Regions from separate parts of the Homo sapiens genome. Here region 2 is linked to region 1. Evidence: fine-mapped expression QTL. A gene starts in region 1. The other region holds a variant in brackets. All regions are shown on one strand. Distances are from middle to middle. Region 1 holds the start of CAPN11 (calpain 11). Region 2 holds the start of LOC105375072 (a long non-coding RNA gene).

The links.
Region 2: its variant is fine-mapped to the expression of CAPN11 in esophagus muscle (GTEx, PIP 0.96).

The regions. Positions count from the first base shown.
Region 1 is chr6:44,155,464-44,163,791 of GRCh38, reverse strand. CAPN11 (calpain 11) reads right to left here and starts at 4,972. Exons shown (of 23, transcript NM_007058.4): 1 at 4,928-4,972. The coding sequence starts at 4,943. It overlaps TMEM63B (transmembrane protein 63B), which reads right to left. Exons shown (of 24, transcript NM_018426.3): 24 at 8,273-8,328. It overlaps LOC107986599 (a long non-coding RNA gene), which reads left to right and starts at 5,189. Exons shown (of 3, transcript XR_002956350.2): 1 at 5,189-5,207. RefSeq lists a silencer at 2,153-2,242 and an enhancer at 3,626-3,795.
Region 2 is chr6:44,182,203-44,190,530 of GRCh38, reverse strand. CAPN11 (calpain 11) reads right to left here. Exons shown (of 23, transcript NM_007058.4): 20 at 7,512-7,590; 21 at 7,296-7,412; 22 at 6,768-6,826; 23 at 6,130-6,625. The coding sequence ends at 6,599. It overlaps LOC105375072 (a long non-coding RNA gene), which reads right to left and starts at 4,548. Exons shown (of 3, transcript XR_926835.2): 1 at 4,473-4,548; 2 at 3,651-3,723; 3 at 590-822. The variant C/G (reference allele first, on the strand shown) is at 3,737.

The sequences.
Region 1 (8,328 bases):
CACAGAGCCTGTAACTTGTGATGAGAAGATATTAGGAATCCTGCCTCAGTTATGAGTAGTGAGCACTTATATAGCATTTCTAAAAATAATAATAGTTAGCAGCGTTTGAGGGCTCACTACATGTCTGGCACTATTCTAAACACCCGATGTGCATTAGCTGATTGAATCATCCCAACAACCCCACTGGTTAGGCTTACTCTTATAACTTCCCTGCTATAGACAGAGAAACTGAGGCAGAGAGAGGCTGAAATTCCTCAGACTCGGTGGGCATTAGAGTCAGGGCAGGCTGCTCTATGCTCTCAGCCATCAGGCTCGCTGCCTTGCTGGGAGGTCGCCATGGTGAGGAGCCATGGCTGTGCTGGAGAGGGATGAGTGAGTCAACTGGCCTTGGTGCGGCCCCTTCGTCCATTGTACTGCAACTTGTGTGTGGTCTTTGTGAAGTCACTTCCCCTGTGTGGAGCAGCTGACAGGGGGTGTTGAGGATGGATAAAGGTGTTGGAAAAGGGGTGGCTTGTCCCTTTTTAGCAGAGCTAATGCCCTGGGCTGCACTGGAGCCAGAGAATTAGCTGTGTGACCTTGGGCAAGTTGTTTGACCTCCCTGAGCCTTGGTTTCCTCACCTGTGTATAGAGGCTGCTGCATTCTACCTGCGAGGGTGTTTCAGGATTGAAGAATGCAACGTGTGAAAAAGACTGGAGTTTAGCAGGTGCTCAGAAAACGTTACTCACCTTCTCCCCACTGACCTAGTTGGTCAACTGGTATTTGTTGAGCTCCTTCTAGGATCACATGGCCCATGCTCTGTGTCACATATGTGTCCCTCCATCATAGGATTTAATGATACTAGTGATATTACTCCAATATTGGAGTCATGTGTGTGCTTGTCTGTCTTTGCCACTGGTTTGAGCTCCTGAGAGCAAACCCTAACTCGTGTTAGGCATGTTTTATGGAGAATTTATTCTGGGCTGGTACTGAGGGGTCAAAGTGAATGCACCCCCAACATGGAGCGTGGAGAAGACCCTCCCATGCGATTCCTCCCCCAGGTTCAGCTCCATGGGCCGCAAAGACAGGAGAAAGTGCCATGAAAAGGGGCCACCAGGTTGATGGGATCATCAGGGAGGTTCTGTGGGGGAATGACTATCCCCCTTTCCCTATTCTAAGCACATCCCATTCCCCTGAGGGTGGGGTGCACTTTGACGTCCTGGTTCTGGAAGCATCAGGGCTGGGAAGCAGGGAAGAGGGTGGGTAGAGCCAGAGTCTGGGAGTTCTCCTCGCTCTTTTCTCCCTCCATTTTCCTCAAACCCTGTCTCTTCTAACCCAAGCCCTCTGGGATTATCTTAGAAATGGTAATGGAAGCTCCCTCACCCCCTCGGGCTATGATTACAGGTGTGTGTGTGTGTGTGTGTGTGTGTGTGTGTGTGTGTGTGTCTTTATTCAAAGAGACTGTGAGGGGGGCTGCGGGGGCGGGGTTAAACAGTGGAGCCCCTTTCAGATGAAGAGGGTTCCGAGGGAAGGGTGGAAAGCAGTCCTGAGAGGGGAGAGCTGAACACCTTCTGTTTCAGCCCCTGATCCCTATCTGTGAAGCTGGCGGATCAGGATGACTATTCCCATCTGAGCTGGGTGGAAGCCAGGGCCTCCACAGAGAGATTGAGTCAGAAGTTCTCAACCCGGGGTGATTACGGCCCCCAGGGAACAGGTGGCAACGTCTAGAGGCAGTGTTGGTTGTCATAACTGGGGCAGGTCTCAGGGGAGCTACTGGCATCTAGTAAGTAGAGGCCAGGGATGCTGCTGGGCGCCCCTCAGTGTAGAGGAAAGTCTCCACAATAAAGAATTTTCCAGTTCAAAATGTCAAGAGAGCTGGGGTTGACAAACCTGGGTTGAGCGAATCATCTAAGGTCATTCACACGATAAGGCAAACCACTCCATGCCCTTGCACCGTGCAGTCACTCCAGGCAGCCTCTACCCTGGCTGCTCCGAGGACTGAGGGTGTTGAGCTCTCCTGGGGGCCTGGAAGGACCAGGGAAGATGCTGTTGTTTGAGAAGACTGAAAGAACATCAGAGGGCAGGCCAAGGCAATTCAGGTTCCATCTTAACTCCCTTGTCTCATTTCCCCAGAGCCCTCTGTCCCCTAGTCACCATCCAGCCCAACAAGTCATTTCTCACTGTCTGGCCCCCAAACCCTGCTTCGAAGCTGCATACCCAGTCCCCAGGGTGTGAGGTCATTACTCAGCTCTGACTTGCAGGAAGGACTGACACACCTATCCACACCACCACAGTTGTCATGGAAAATGTCTTTAAGTTGGGCACTGTGGCTCACGCCTGTAATCCCAGCACTTTGAGAGGCTGAGGTGGGCGGATCACCTGAAGTCAGGAGTTCAAGACCCGCCTGGCCAACATGGTGAAACCCCGTCTCTACTAAGAACACAAAAATGAGTTGGGTGTGGTAGCACATGCCTGTAGTCCCAGCTATTCAGGAGGCTGAGGCAGGAGAATCGCTTGAACCCGGGAGGTGGAGGTTGCAGTGAGCCAAGGTTGGGCCACTGCACTCCAGCCTGGGCAATAGAGTGAGACTCCACCTCAAAACAAACAAACAAACAAAAACACCAAAAAAAAAAAAAACCCAAAAGAAAATATCCCCTTAGAGAGGGCAAAAGATCCAAGCTGTCACATGGGCTAGGAGCGTGAGAAGGCTGAGACAGACAGACCAAGGCTGCCTGTGGGAAGCACAGACAGATGGCCAGAGCAACACAGTAGCTCCCCTTAACCCTAGGGGTACGTTCCAACACCCCCAGTGGACACCTGAAACTGCGGGTGGTACCAAACCCTGTATATATCAATACTATGTCTTTCCTTTATGTACATACCTATGATAAAGTTTAGTTTATAAATTAGGCACAGTAAGCAGTTAACCATAATAAGTAATAAAATATAACAAATACAACAATACAATAACAGTAATGTGAATGTGGTCTCTCTGTCTCAAAATATCCTGATGTTTTCAGACTGCAGTTGACAGCGGGTAACTGAAACTGCGTGGAAAGCAGGGGCTGCTGCATGTTAAAAGGCATGAATGGACAGGAAGCTTTCTGCTGCAGCTGCACATCCTGTCTCCTCCATCAGACTGAGAACCTACAGATCATTTTGTTGTTGTTGTTGTTGTTGTTTTTTGAGGTTTTTTTTGAGGCGGAGTCTCACTCTGTCGCCCAGGCTGGAGTGCAGTGGAGCGATCTTGGCTCACTGCAAGCTCCACCTTCTGGGTTCACGCTATTCTCCTGCCTCAGCCTCCCGAGTAGCTGGGACTACAGGCGCCCGCCACCACGCCTGGCTTATTTTTTGTATTTTTAGTAGAGACAGGGTTTCACCGCGTTAGCCAAGATGGTCCCGATCTCCTGACTTCGTGATCTGCCCGCCACGGCCTCCCAAAGTGCTGGGATTACAGGCGTGAGCCACTGCGCCCGGCCAGATCGTTTTTAACTAAATCAGTTTTATTTTATTGACAAAAAAAGTATATATCTGTTGTATACGACATGGTGTTTTGAAATATGTATTCACTGTGGAATGGCTCAGTTGAGCTAATTAATATCTGCATTACTGCACATACTTGTTATTTGTTTGTGGTGAGAACACTTAAAATCTACTGTCAGTGATTTTCTTTTTTTTTTGAGATGGAGTCTCGCTGTGTCGCCCAGGCTTGGGGTGCGGTGGCACGATCTCGGCTCACTGCAACCTCCACTTGCTGGGTTCAAGAGATTCTCCTGCCTCAGCCTCCCGAGTAGCTGGGATTACAGGCGCCCGCCACCACGCATGGCTAATTTTTGTATTTTAGTAGAGACACGGTTTCACTATGTTGGCCAGGCTGGTCTCGAACTCCTGACCTCAGATGATCCACCTGCCTTGGCCTCCCAGAGTGCTAGGATTACAGGCGTGAACCACTGTGCCTGGCCTCTCTCAGTGATTTTCTAAATGCAATACATTGTTATTAGGGGACTATAGATTTAAGGACAGTTTGATTTCCGGCACTGGGAAAAAACTAAGATGTTGTGTCAGGGAACTTTAAAAAAAAATAAATACTAATAAGTAATAATAATAAATAAATAAATTATATTTTGAGATGAGGTCTTGCTATGCTGACCAGGCTGGTCTTGAACTCCTGGGCTCAGGGCACTTCTGAAGAACAAGGACTGGGTTTGGGGTCACCAGCTAGGCCTAAACTTCCTAGGGTCAGGTAAACAGGGAGGGCCTGAGAAGCTGGGAGGCTGGGTCTAGGGGCCCATGGTCTCACGGTGCCCCAGGCTGAGGGTGAGGTACAGGGCTGACCTTCTGCTGGCCAAGGCTGGCTGCCCTCTGTGCACCCTAGCCCCACAGGAACAACTCAGTTCTGCCCAGCCCTCCCCTTCCCCCCAGCCCACTCTCCCCCATCTCCTGGAGTCTGGTCCCAGGCTTGCCTCAGGTAGTCCTGCCCCTGCCACCCTGAGGATCTCATCTTCCTGGGCTGAGGGACCTGCTTTTCTAGGCTTAGGAGAGGTTCTCTCTGTTCCCTAAAGTTTTCTTCTCTACGTGGGCTTTTTCACACAAACCCTTTTCCCCAGCAGCCATGACAGTGGGATGGCCGGCCCCTCTCCTCTCCCCAACTCCAACTGTCAGTGGAGAGGAGAAAGAGTTCCTGCCCGGCCTACCACCCAGTCTGACCACCAGTGGCCTATCCTTCCCCAAACAGTCTGAGAACGAGGCCCAGGTCCTGTCCTTAGGGAGCATCCAGTCTGATGGAAGAGTCACTCTCTGTACCCTCAAGGGGCATCCAGTCTGATGGAAGAGTCACTCTCTGTACCCTCAAGGGGCACCCAGTCTGATGCGGGACACAGCTCCTCCCCTGGGGGGAGGCTCTAGCCTGCAGGAGGTACAGGAGTGGGGCAAGGCCCCATGAGTGCCTACCTGGGGAGTACAGCATGCTGGTGGCTAGCTCGGTGCTTGACAGTTGAAGGTTCTGGTGGGAGGGGGAGAAGAGACCCTCCCCCCAGAACTCTCTCATTGCAGTGGGATTCCTAGGTCAGCAGCCGGTTTAACAGCTGCCTTCCCTTTTCTCCTTCTCAGTAACCCAGCCCCTTACCCAGCTGAGGGCTACCCGCTTTAGGGACAGATGACCCAGCACCCCTGCCTTGCACAGCCTCCACCAGCCTGGCTGTCCTCACTGTATCACGGTCATCCCATCAGGGTAGGTCCCAGTCCCTTTTTTTCAGCCCAAGGTTTCCAGGAAGGGGTTGTCCCTGACACACCAACCTGACCTTTACATCCAGAAAGCCTTCTCATTCCCAAAAGCCCCTTTCTCACTGACATGGCATTTTTCCTGTGTTGCTGTCTTCACATGGCACCCTCCTCTGTGTCTCTTCTTCTTATAAGGACACCAGTCATATGGGGCTAGGGTCCCATGCATTTCAGTATGACCTCATCTTAATTGAACGAATTACATCTGCAACCACCCTGTTTCCAAATGAGGTCACATTCTGAAGTACTGGGGGCCAGGACTTCAACATGCCTTTTTGGGGGACACGATTCCACCTGCAACACTCTCCTTGCCTAGCCCCAGTCTGGCAAGGTTAGGCCACTGGTCTGACCACATGTCCTGCCTCTGCACTGGAAAGTGGGAATGCTTTGAGCTAAGAACTCTGCTCCAGAGTGCAGTCTTCTCTGGAGTGTATGATGGCTGAGGACAGGGACTGTCAAGGTCATCCCAGTGCCCCTCAGCCCTGCCTGGTGCTAATCAGGCACAGAACAGGTGTGAGAGCACCCAATGGGATCAGAGAACCTTGTTCCAAGCTCTGAAACAGGAGCTGACCTTGGGCGAGCCCTCCCCCTTTCTCCTTTCTGGGACTCAATCTCCTCATCTACGAGAATATTAATTATGGTTTGTTATTATGTGCCAAACACTGGGCTAAGAACTTCCTACTTATTTAATCCTTAAAACAGCCAGAGGCCATGACATTGCTATTCCCATTTTATAGATGAGGAAAGTGAGGTCTAGAGGTATGATGCAACTTGCCCAGGGTCACACAGCTGTTAAGCGGTCGAGCCAGGATTTAAACTAATAACTTCAGATTTTTTTTTTTTTTTTTTTTTTTGAGATGGAGTCTCGCTCTTTTGCCCAGGCTGGAGTGAAGTGGTGCAATCTCAGCTCACTGCAACCTCTGCCCCCCGGGTTCAAGCGATTCTCCTGCCTCAGCCTCTCAAGTAGCTGGGATTACAGGTGCCCACCACCATGCCCAGCTAATTTTTGTATTTTTAGTAGAGACGGGGTTTCGCCATGTTGGGCAGGCTGGTCTCGAACTCCTGACCTCAGGTGATCACTCGCTTCGGCCTCCCAAAGCGCTAGGATTATAGGCATAAGCCACCGTGCCCGGCCATAACTTTAGCTCTTATCCGTATCTTCTGCTGCCCCCAGCTGTGAAAGGAGGAAGTGGTCTTTGGGGATCCTGTGGTCTCCCCTGCCCACTCCTGATTCCACTATTGCACCTCTTGGATGCCTCTAATGTGATCTGCCTGGACATGAACTCTGTGACGAGGTGCCAGGGGTAGGGTGCAGGCAGGCACGGGTGTTCCTCTCTATTACAGCCTCCCACCCTGGGGGAGGGCTGTCCTCAGGACTCTTGCTCAGTGTGCTGCTTGGGCATTATCTGGAGTTTCACATTTGGAAATGCTGGAACCTGGCTTTGAACTTCAGGCCCTGCAGGAAAGGGAAGGCATGCTGGGCAGATGAGGAATGAGAGGGTCTCGGCTAACCAGAGGTGGGGGCTGAGGTCTGTCCAGGCCATGCTTTGCAGACAAGGGGGCTTGCCAGGCAAATGGCGGTGGTGTGCCTGCCCATCCATACGGAAAACAGGCTTCGGGAGCACCGAGAAGCCTTCACACAACCAAGGTGCTCCTTTCAAAGCCATGCCAATATTTGTCCAACCACCAGCAGGCACTCCCTTGGCCCCAAGACTTTGGGGACTCTACCTGGGAGCTCATGTTTCACAACTGCAGATCTGACATACATATGCAGGCTGAGGCCAGGACCAAGGCCTCAACTTTCACCTCCACTGTCACTGGCCCATCCTCCACCCACAGCCCGCCCATAAACACTGACCCTCCAAGCTGTGTTTGCCGCAGCTCCCTGCAGCCTGGGGCTGGACCTTGGGCGCTCTTTGCTCCTGCTCCTTGCTGGCGCCTGGGCAATCTTTATCAGGCTTGCTGTGTTTGCTGTTCCTGCTGTTGGTGGTTCCTGTTGACTTTTGTGGAACCTGGTTCTCCTCCTCCTCTGAGGTCTCTTTTCTTCCCTCTAAGAGTTCCTTTTTCTTCCTTTTCTTCAGGGTTGCAAAGTGATTTAGTGACAGAATAAGGACTGGAATGCAGGCCTCCTACAGTACATGCAGTACATGCTGTGTGTGCATGTGTGTGGGTGTGCACCACATGGCTCTGTGGGCCTTTGCAGGGTGGGCTACAGCAGTCACAGGACCTTTTTTCGAGGTGATTTTTTTTTGTTTTTTTTTGAGACAGGGTCTTGCCCTGTCGCCCAGGCTGGAGTGCAGTGGCATGATCTCAGCTCACTGCAGCCTCCACCTCCCAGGTTCAAGTGATTCTCATGCCTCAGCCTCCCAAGTAGCTGGGATTACAGGGGTGCACCACCATGCCCAGCTAATTTCTGTATTTTTTGTAGAGATGGGGTTTCATCATGTTGGCCAGGCTGGTCTCGAACTCCTGAACTCAAGTGATCCACCCACCTTGGCCTCCCAAAGTACTGGGATTACAGGCGTGAGCCACCGCGCCTGGCGAGAAGGTGAATTTGAGCTGGGTCTTGGAGAATGGGTAAGATTTGACTGGAGGGTGGGAGGGGGCTTCTCATTGAGGAGATCAGGCCCTCCTGGGGAAGGGACAGATGGGCTGGCGCCAGGCTTACTTTGAGGTGCTCAGAAGGGCCTTCGTCCTGGCCCAGCATGGACCCTGTGGCTTTGCACGACCTTTTCTCCCTGAATCTCTGTCCCATGTGTGTTGCTCAGGGACTCAGGGGAATGATCAGAGTGGGCGAGGCTGGTATGGTGGCCACCTGGGCACAGGGGCCCTTCCTGCCTCTGAGATATCCCTTAAGTCTCTCCCCAGCCCCACTCTCTCCTCTCAGTGACACAGAAATGAGACTCTGAACAAGTCCCTTGCCCAGCGTCATGCAGGGACCTCAAAGAGGCCCTCCAGATAGGAGGGTGGGGACCCGGCCCAGGTGCCCAGGGCAGCACAAGTCAGACACCTGCCTCAGAGCTTTTCTTTGTTTTTATTTTAAAGGAAAAAAACAAAAAAGAACAAAAAAA
Region 2 (8,328 bases), 27 kb before region 1:
CACTTGAGGTCAGGAGTTCAAGACCATTCCTGGCCAGCATGGTGAAACCCCGTCTCTACCAAAAATATAAAAAATTAGCCGGGCATGGTGGCGGGTGCCTGTAATCCCAGCTACTCGGGAGGCTGAGGCAGGATAATCGCTTGAACCCGGGAGGTGGAGGTTGCAGTGAACCGAGATGGCGCCATTGCACTCCAGCCTGGGCAACAAGAGCAAAACTCCAACTCAAAAAAAAAAAAAAAAAAGGAAGCTCTCTATATACTAATAGAAAAATATCTCCAAGATATATATTTTAAAATTGCTTTTAAAAATAAGCTAGCTATTGGGCTAGGCACAGTTGCTCATGCCTGTAATCTCAATACTTCGGGAGGTCAAGGCAAGAAGATCATTTGAGCCCAGGAGTTCGAGACCAGCCTGGGCAACACAGTGAGACTGTCTTTACAAAAAATTAAAAAAAAAAAAAAGCTGGCCATGTTGGCGTGCACCCATAGTCCCAGCTACATGGCAGAGTGAGGCAGAAAGATCACCTGAGCCCAGGAGTTCAAGGCTGCAGTGAGCCATGATTGTACCACTGCACTGCAGCCTGGGCGACAGAGGGAGACCCTGTACCTAAACAAAACAAACAAAAAGCAACCACAAAAAAACAAAAGAAGCTAATGAGCTCATCCTGCTTTACTTTTTCTTCACTCAGCATCTTCTCAGGCTCTACAGCTGTGGCTGGGTGGCATCTAGTCTGCTGCTTCTGTTGCATGGCATTCCATGGTTTTCAAGCACATTTGGGACCCAATTTTCTCAGAGACCAGAGGATGAAGCTGCGAAGATATTCTGAGGGAGAAGAGAAGTGGGGTTGAGGCTGTTTCTCTGATGTAGCCTCATTCTTTGCAGTAAAAATGAAGGCTGTAGTGAGAGGTCTGGGGGAAATCAGGGCAGTGGGTGTGGAGAATGGCAGTCAGTCATCAGGAGAAGAAATCTAGCTTGCCACGTGGCCTCCATCGAGGTCAACCAGCATGAATCAGGAGGATGCAGGCAGCATGGTTTAGTGCCCATTCCCAGCAAAACTCAGCCACCTGGTTTTATGAGCAGAGGACTAAAAGGGACTAGAAAGTATGGGCTGCCTGCCTGTGGTTACAGGTCCCTTGGAGACAGCAAGGACATAGTGGGAATGGCCTCCCAGGGCACTAAGGCTGAGCTGGGATGGAGTTGCAGTGAAGTTGGATGGAAATGGAGCCTGAAGGGACTAGAAGAATGGTGTGCCTCATTTTCCAAATTTTAAATAACATTGTATATAGCCATTGCTAATAATATTTAATGCAAGCAAATGGTAAACACTAATGTCAAGGACTATTGTAAATCTAATATGCATCTTGCTTATTCAACTGTATGTCATAACCCTCATGCCATTTGTGTTATTTAGTTCAATGGCTTGATATTTTATCGTGTGTAACATCTAATGTGTATTTATTTATTTATTTTTGAGACAGAATCTCCCTCTGTTGCCCAGGCTGGAATGCAGTGGTTTGATCAGAGTTCTCTGCAGCCTTGAACTCCTGGGCTCAAGCAATTTTCCTGCCTCAGCCTCCCGAGTAACTAGGACTATAGGCATGACCCACACCACTCCTGGCTATAACATGTTCACAATTGAAAATTTGTTTTTTTTATTTTTTTACTATTATAGATAATATCAAAGTTTTTTTAAAAAAGAATGATATGCCTAAGTGCTTCACTTTCATTATCGCAGTTGTCCATACAACAGCCCTCTGAGATAGGAATTGTCACCTCTAATTGACAGATTCAAAAGGATACTCTGTTAGAAAGGTAAAATAATTTGCCCAAAGACACATAGCTCGTGAATCTTCACCTTAAGCCACTATGCAAATTGTTGGGAAAAGAAAATAACTTTTATTTGGTGAGGTGGCAGGTGCCTGTAATCCAGCTTCTTGGGAGACTGAGGCCTGGGAATCGCTTGAACCTGGGAGGCGGAGGTTGCAGTGAGCTGAGATCGCGCCACTGAACTCCAGCCTGGGCGACAGAGAGAGACTCTGTCTCAAAAAAATAAAAATAAATAAAATAAAAATAACTTTTATCTGAGGAATGCAAATCCTTTTAATTATCAGACCCAGAGAGACAGTAACATGACACACAATTGCACCCTATACCCTGCACTCCCCTTTAAGTTATGTATTCATCTCTTGAAACTGCTTGCTACTTCTACAGGTAGCTATAAATTATCCTAATAATGGGACACCAGACACTATAGCCAATAACTAATCAATGTTATTTCTGAAAACCGGTGAGAATTCCTAACAAATAACTTTGTATCATTCCACTCACTGTCCTCCTTTTTTACCTTTCTTTTCTTTTCTTTTTTGTTTTTTGAGACGGAGTCTCACGCTCTCACCCTGGCTGGAGTACAATGGCGCAATCTTGGCTCACTGCAACCTCCATCTCCCGGGTTCAAGCAATTCTCCTGCCTCAGCCTCCCAAGTAGCTGGGATTACAGGTGCCCACCACCACACCTGGCTAATTTTTTGTATTTTTAGTAGAGACGGGGTTTCGCCATGTTGGGCAGGTTAGAACTCCTGACCTCGTGATCGGCCTGCCTCGGCCTCCCAAGGTGCTGGGATTACAGGCGTGAGCCACTATGCCCAGCCCTTTTTTACCTTTAAAAATGCATTTTGGGCCGGGCACAGTGGCTCATGACTTTAATCTCAGCACTTTGGGAGGCTCGGGGGGGTGGGCGGTGGGGCAGATTACTTGAGGTCAGTAGTTTGAGGCTAACCTGGCCAACATGGTGAAACCCTGTGTCTACTAAAAATACAAAAATTAGCCATGCATGGTGATGTGCACCTGTAGTCCCAGCTACTCAGGAGGCTGAGGCAGGAGGATCACCTGAGCCCGGGAGGCAGAGGTTATAGTAAGCCAAAACTGTGCCACTGCACTCCAGCCGGGTGACAAAGAGAGGCCCTGACACACACACACACACACACACACACACACCCCAAAACAAAACAAAACAAAAACCTTTTTGTTTTTTGAGACAAGGCCTCGCTCCGTCACCCAGGCAGGAGTGCATTGGCATGATCACATTTCACTGCAGCCTCGACCTCCTGGACTCAAGTGATCCTCCCACTTCAGCTCCCCACACAGCTGGGACCACATGTGTGCGCCACCAGTCCTGGCTAACTTTTTCTTTTCTTTTTTTGAGATAGTCTCACTCTGTCACCCAGGCTGGAGTGCAGTGGCACAATCTCAGCTCACTGCAACCTCCGCCTCCCGGGTTCAAGCGATTCTTATGCCTCAGCCTCCCGAGTAGCTGTGACTACAGCCGTGTGCCACCACGCCTGGCTATTTTTTGTATTTTTAGTAGAGATGGGGTTTCACCATGTTGGCCAGGCTGGTCTTGAATTTCTGGCCTCAAGTGATCTGCCCACCTCAGCCTCACAAAGTGCTGGGGTTATAGGTGTGAGCCACTGTACCCAGCCTAAAAATCCACTTGTAACTGCTGCTAATCGGGATGTATATTCAGAATAATTTGAATCTATTCTCCAGGGTTACAATCCTTAAGTTTAGCCCAAATAAACTCTCTACTTATGTGAAGTTTGCTTCATTTTATGTTTACAGAGTGTTCGTGAGTAACCAGCTTTGTTACAAACCGGAAGGGATAGTCCTGATTTGAGAGTTTTCTGCTTCCTTTCCATCCTGGCTTGAAGTTGGCAGCATTTCACCCTAGGCCATGGAA[C/G]AAGAGGTGGGGTCAGCATCTTCCTAGGGTTCCCAGAACCAATCCGGACTGCCCGGGACCTCTCAGAGTCTCAAAGGACCTGCTAGGTTTTTGTTTTTAAAAGATGGAGTCCCCGTGTTGCCCAGGCTGGTCTCAAACTCCTCAGCCTCCCGAGTAGCTGGGATTACAGGCATGTGCCACCATGCCCAGCATGGACCTGTTAGCTTGAGGCTCTCACTGACCTCTCCCTGCTCTCTCTGGGGACTTTTGCTCATCACTCAGAGAAGCTCTGTGGAGAGCAGGTGGTGGCTGCCATCTCTTAGAGAGAGAGGGAGGACGACAAGTGGGAGAACAGTCTTTCAAAGAGGCTCCAAAGAGAGTGTGACCTATTCTTTCAGGCAGGACTGGAGACGGAGAGGAAGCAGGGAGGGCTGACAGGACAGGAAACGATTCCTCTGAAGGCGGCGTGGGGTGGTGATAATGGAGGGAAGGCGGCTTTATATCCAGGCAGACTAGCTTTAGTCTTTGAAGTCACAAAGAAGGCAGGGGCCAGGGCTGGTGCAGACAATCAGTCACCAGATTAAGGAAGATCAGAATCCCACCTGCCTCACTAAGCACACAAGGGCTGGGTTTAGTGCACGTGGAAGGAAGCTAGCGACCCCAGGAAGCTGCACAGGTACACAGAGACAGGAAGGGTTTAGCTTCATTGGGGATGACAGATCTCTAATCTAGGGGAAGTTGGGGGTGCTGTCTCTACCTGAGAGGCTGAGAAGCGCATGTGCTTGGGCTCCAGTGTCCCTGCCAGAAACCAGAAGGGGAGGCTGTGGAGGGCTCTGGAAGGACAGGAGGAGAAGTACAGTTTAGGGGCTGCTGTGAGTGGCCTGGGTGTTCTCACTACTGCAGGGGGCTGGGGCTGGAGTTGGGGTGTGGGCACCTGGGACAGAGACCCCGAGGTCAAAAACAGGTGGACCCAGAAATAAGTGTTTCTTCCATGCCTCCTGCAAGGACAGTAGCTTGACAAGCAACAAATTTCTTTTTTTTTTTTAATTTTCTTTTTAATTCTCAGCAAGGCAAGTTACTTCTATATAGAAGCGTGCGCCCTTATAGATGGAACAATGGTGAGCACACATTTGGACAAGGGAGGGGAAGGGGTTCTTATCCCTGATGCACGTGGCCCCTGCTGCTGTGTCGTTCCCCTATTGGCTAGGGTTAGACCGCACAGGCTAAACTAATTCTGATTGACTAATTTAAAGAGACTGACAGGGTGAGTGCTTTGGTGGGAGTCAGGGCAGAGCAGGTAGCAGGTGATTGGAATAAATTAGGGTGGAGCAGGTGATCGGAATGAGTCAGGGTGGAATAGGTAATTGAAAAGGTTGCTTTACGAGGAAGTGAAGTTTAAAAATAGAAGGCAAAGAATTGAACATACTGACATATTAATTCTTTGAAAAGAAATTTAGAACTCATATCTAACAATCCCTCCCCTTGTATTTCCTTACAGCTTTCTTTTCATACTTTTTTTTTTTTTAACATGTCTTGACTTAGTTGCTTTGCTTGATTTTCTAAAAGAAGAAGCTTCTCTGGATAAGGTGGAGGATAGTTAAGGGAGGTTTTAGTAAGTGGACAGGCAACAAATTTCTAACAATAATAATAATGATTTGAATCTGAACACCTTTAAGGCAGGAACGAGTTCACCTATTGCCACAGTCCTCAGCCTTCCCAGTCCCACACGAGGAGGATTTGTTCATTTATTTATTTAAATTGTTTTTGAGACAGAGTCTTGCTCTGTCACCCAGGCTGGAGTGAAGTGGTATGATCTTGTCTCACTGCAACCTCCACCCCCCAGGTTCAAGCAGTTCTCCTGCCTCAGCCTCCCAAGTAGCTGGGATTATAGGCGCGTGCCACTACGGCCAGCTAAGTTTTGTATTTTTAGCAGAGACGGAGTTTTGCCATGTTGGCCAGGGTGGTCTCAAACTCCTGACCTCAGGTGATCCACCTGCGTTGGCCTCCCAGAGTGCTGGGATTACAGGCGTGAGCCACCGCGCCCGGCAGTTCGTTCATTTATGTGACCTGCTGGCTGCAGGTGTCAGATTTTTAACCTTCGAGGCTCCTGCAGTGCCACCTTTGGGGACCCCAGTTTGAAGCAGCAGATGAGAGTCCTGGAGCCCTGGCTCAGCCCCCGTAGAAGCGCTCCACCATAGGGCACACCACACAGTTCTTCACAGGGAGGGACTTGTGTGCTTAGCATCTGGCACTGCCCATAAACGCCAACTATGGCCTCTAGTTATTGTGACAACTGCACATTTCTATATGCTCCCTATCACCCTTGGCTGAGAGCTACCCAATCCTTTGGTCCTGGGTAAGTGACTTCCACCCTTGCCAGTCTTTTCTTGGCATAAAAACACAGAGACATGGAAGCCAATGGCATGTGCTATTTATTAGAATAGTATCCACAGATGGGGAGGAAAACAGAGGCTGTGCCAGGATGGGTGGTCAGCAGGTAGGTGTGAGCAGGACAGCAAGCATGGAGGGTAAGAAACGGGCTACAAGTCCCTTCCCTATTCTTGGCCTCCCCAGCCAGGGGGACCCTGGGGAAGCATCAACTACTCTTTAGTAAAATATACTCTGAGAGAGCGATGGTGGGGGAAAGCCAGCCATCAGAAGCCGGGTTGGGGAAAAAAGAGAAAGCCTCTGAGCTGGGGGAGTGGGCACGGAGGTCCCACTGCTGCAGTAAACACGGCACCTGGGACCCGGGCACTGCCACCTGGAGCCCATTTCATCAGCAGAGACCGGAGAGCTGAGGGCTACAAGAAGCACCCCACCCTCCTGGGCTAGAACCTCGCTGCTGCTGCTGCTGGTAGAGATGACCAGGCTCCTACAGCGCCTCTATCCCCACATGGTCATCTGCAGCCACTGTGGAGACAGGAAGCAGATCCCAGGGTGGGAAGAGACGGGGGCAGGATGCTGGCCCGGGGACATCAGAGCTGGGTGGGGGTGGGGTTGAGGGGCAGGCAGGTGCAATCCTGCAGATTCCTTCCCACCCTTCTCCAAGTACCTGTTCCAGGCTCAAGCAAATATGGCCAGTATTCTTGGGGTCCATGGTTAGAAAGAATGCTGCGTTACAGAGGAAGCGGGGGAGAGGGGCTGAATGCTAAGTCAGTGTTCCGAAAGAACCACTCCCAACTAGGTAGGAAGGGGCGACACCAGGTGTTCCTGGCTGTTCCCCACATAAATCCCCTAGCCAAGTGGGGAATTAATGATAGCAACTCACATAGCCTCACCAGGAGCCAGGCCCAGTTCTGATTGCCTTCCATAGACTAACTGGTTTAACCTGCACCTCAGTCCTTTGAGGGCAGTACTATTATTATCCACATTCTAAAGAGGAGGGAATGGAGGCACAGAAAGATTAAGTGACTTGCTCAAGTCACCTCTGCCAGCAAGTGGCGGAGCTGGGCTTTGAATCCATTTCATGTGTGCCTTGTAAGGGGGAGGGGATCTGGAGCAGCACCCATCAGGGTGGGTGTTTGGGAAAGGGCCCGCGGCCCCTGGCCTAGGCTGGGGAGTGGGTAGATGCCTAACTCACTGAACATGGTCTTTAGCCTCAGGAAACAGCTGATGAAGCTGTCAAAGTCTATGATCAGGTCATCATCTGCATACCTGGCCACCAGGACCTGCATTACCTTGTTGTTCAGCTTGATGCCTGAGAGAGGGAGAGAGAAGTGGGGAGGGGAAAAGTCTGGGCCTCTGGACACTGCCATCCTCTTCCCTGCCCCAAGGCCCACTCCTGACCCTTGGCCACCTGCTTTCTCAATAACCAGGCGCATCTCATAGGAGTTCAAGGTGCCTGAATGGTCCTGGTCACACTCTCTGAAGATGTCCTGAAGAGACAGACAGATATGGTAGGGCCACATGCATGGCATGGTGGTTGAAATAATGAAATACTGAGGCCGGGCGCGGTGGCTCATGCCTGTAATCCCAGCACTTTGAAAGGCCGAGGCAGGCGGATCATCTGAGGTCAGGAGTTTGAGACCAGCCTGGCCAACATGACGAAACCCCGTCTCTAATAAAACTACAAAAATTAGCTGGGTGTGGTGGTGCATGCCTGTAATCCCAGCTAGTCAGGAGGCTGAGGCAGGAGGCGGAGGTTACAGTAAGCAGAGATCGCACCACTGCACTCCAGCCTGGGCAACAGAGTGAGATTCCGTCTCAAAAAAAAGAAAAAGAAATACTTTAGGACAGTTGGCTCACAGCAGTGGCCTAAGACCCCATGCCCCCCTCCAACCCTGGCCCACTCCTGATATTCCTATCATCTGGTGACCTAAGGGTTAATTCCAAGCATGGGTTGTCGGGGGCACTGGTGCCCTGCCCAGCGCTCTTTGTGTGCATCCTTCATGACTAGATGATACCTGAGCTATACTTGTTATAAAATATTTTGACTGGGTAATATGCCACACTCCAACAGACCCTTTTCATGTGTGTGTGTGGTGTGGTTGTGTCTGTATGTGAGTGTGTGTGTGTGTGTGTGTGTGTGTGGTGTGGTTGTGTCTGTATGTGTGTGTGTGTGTGGTGTGGTTGTGTCTGTATGTGAGTGTGTATGTGTGTGTGTGAGTGTGGTG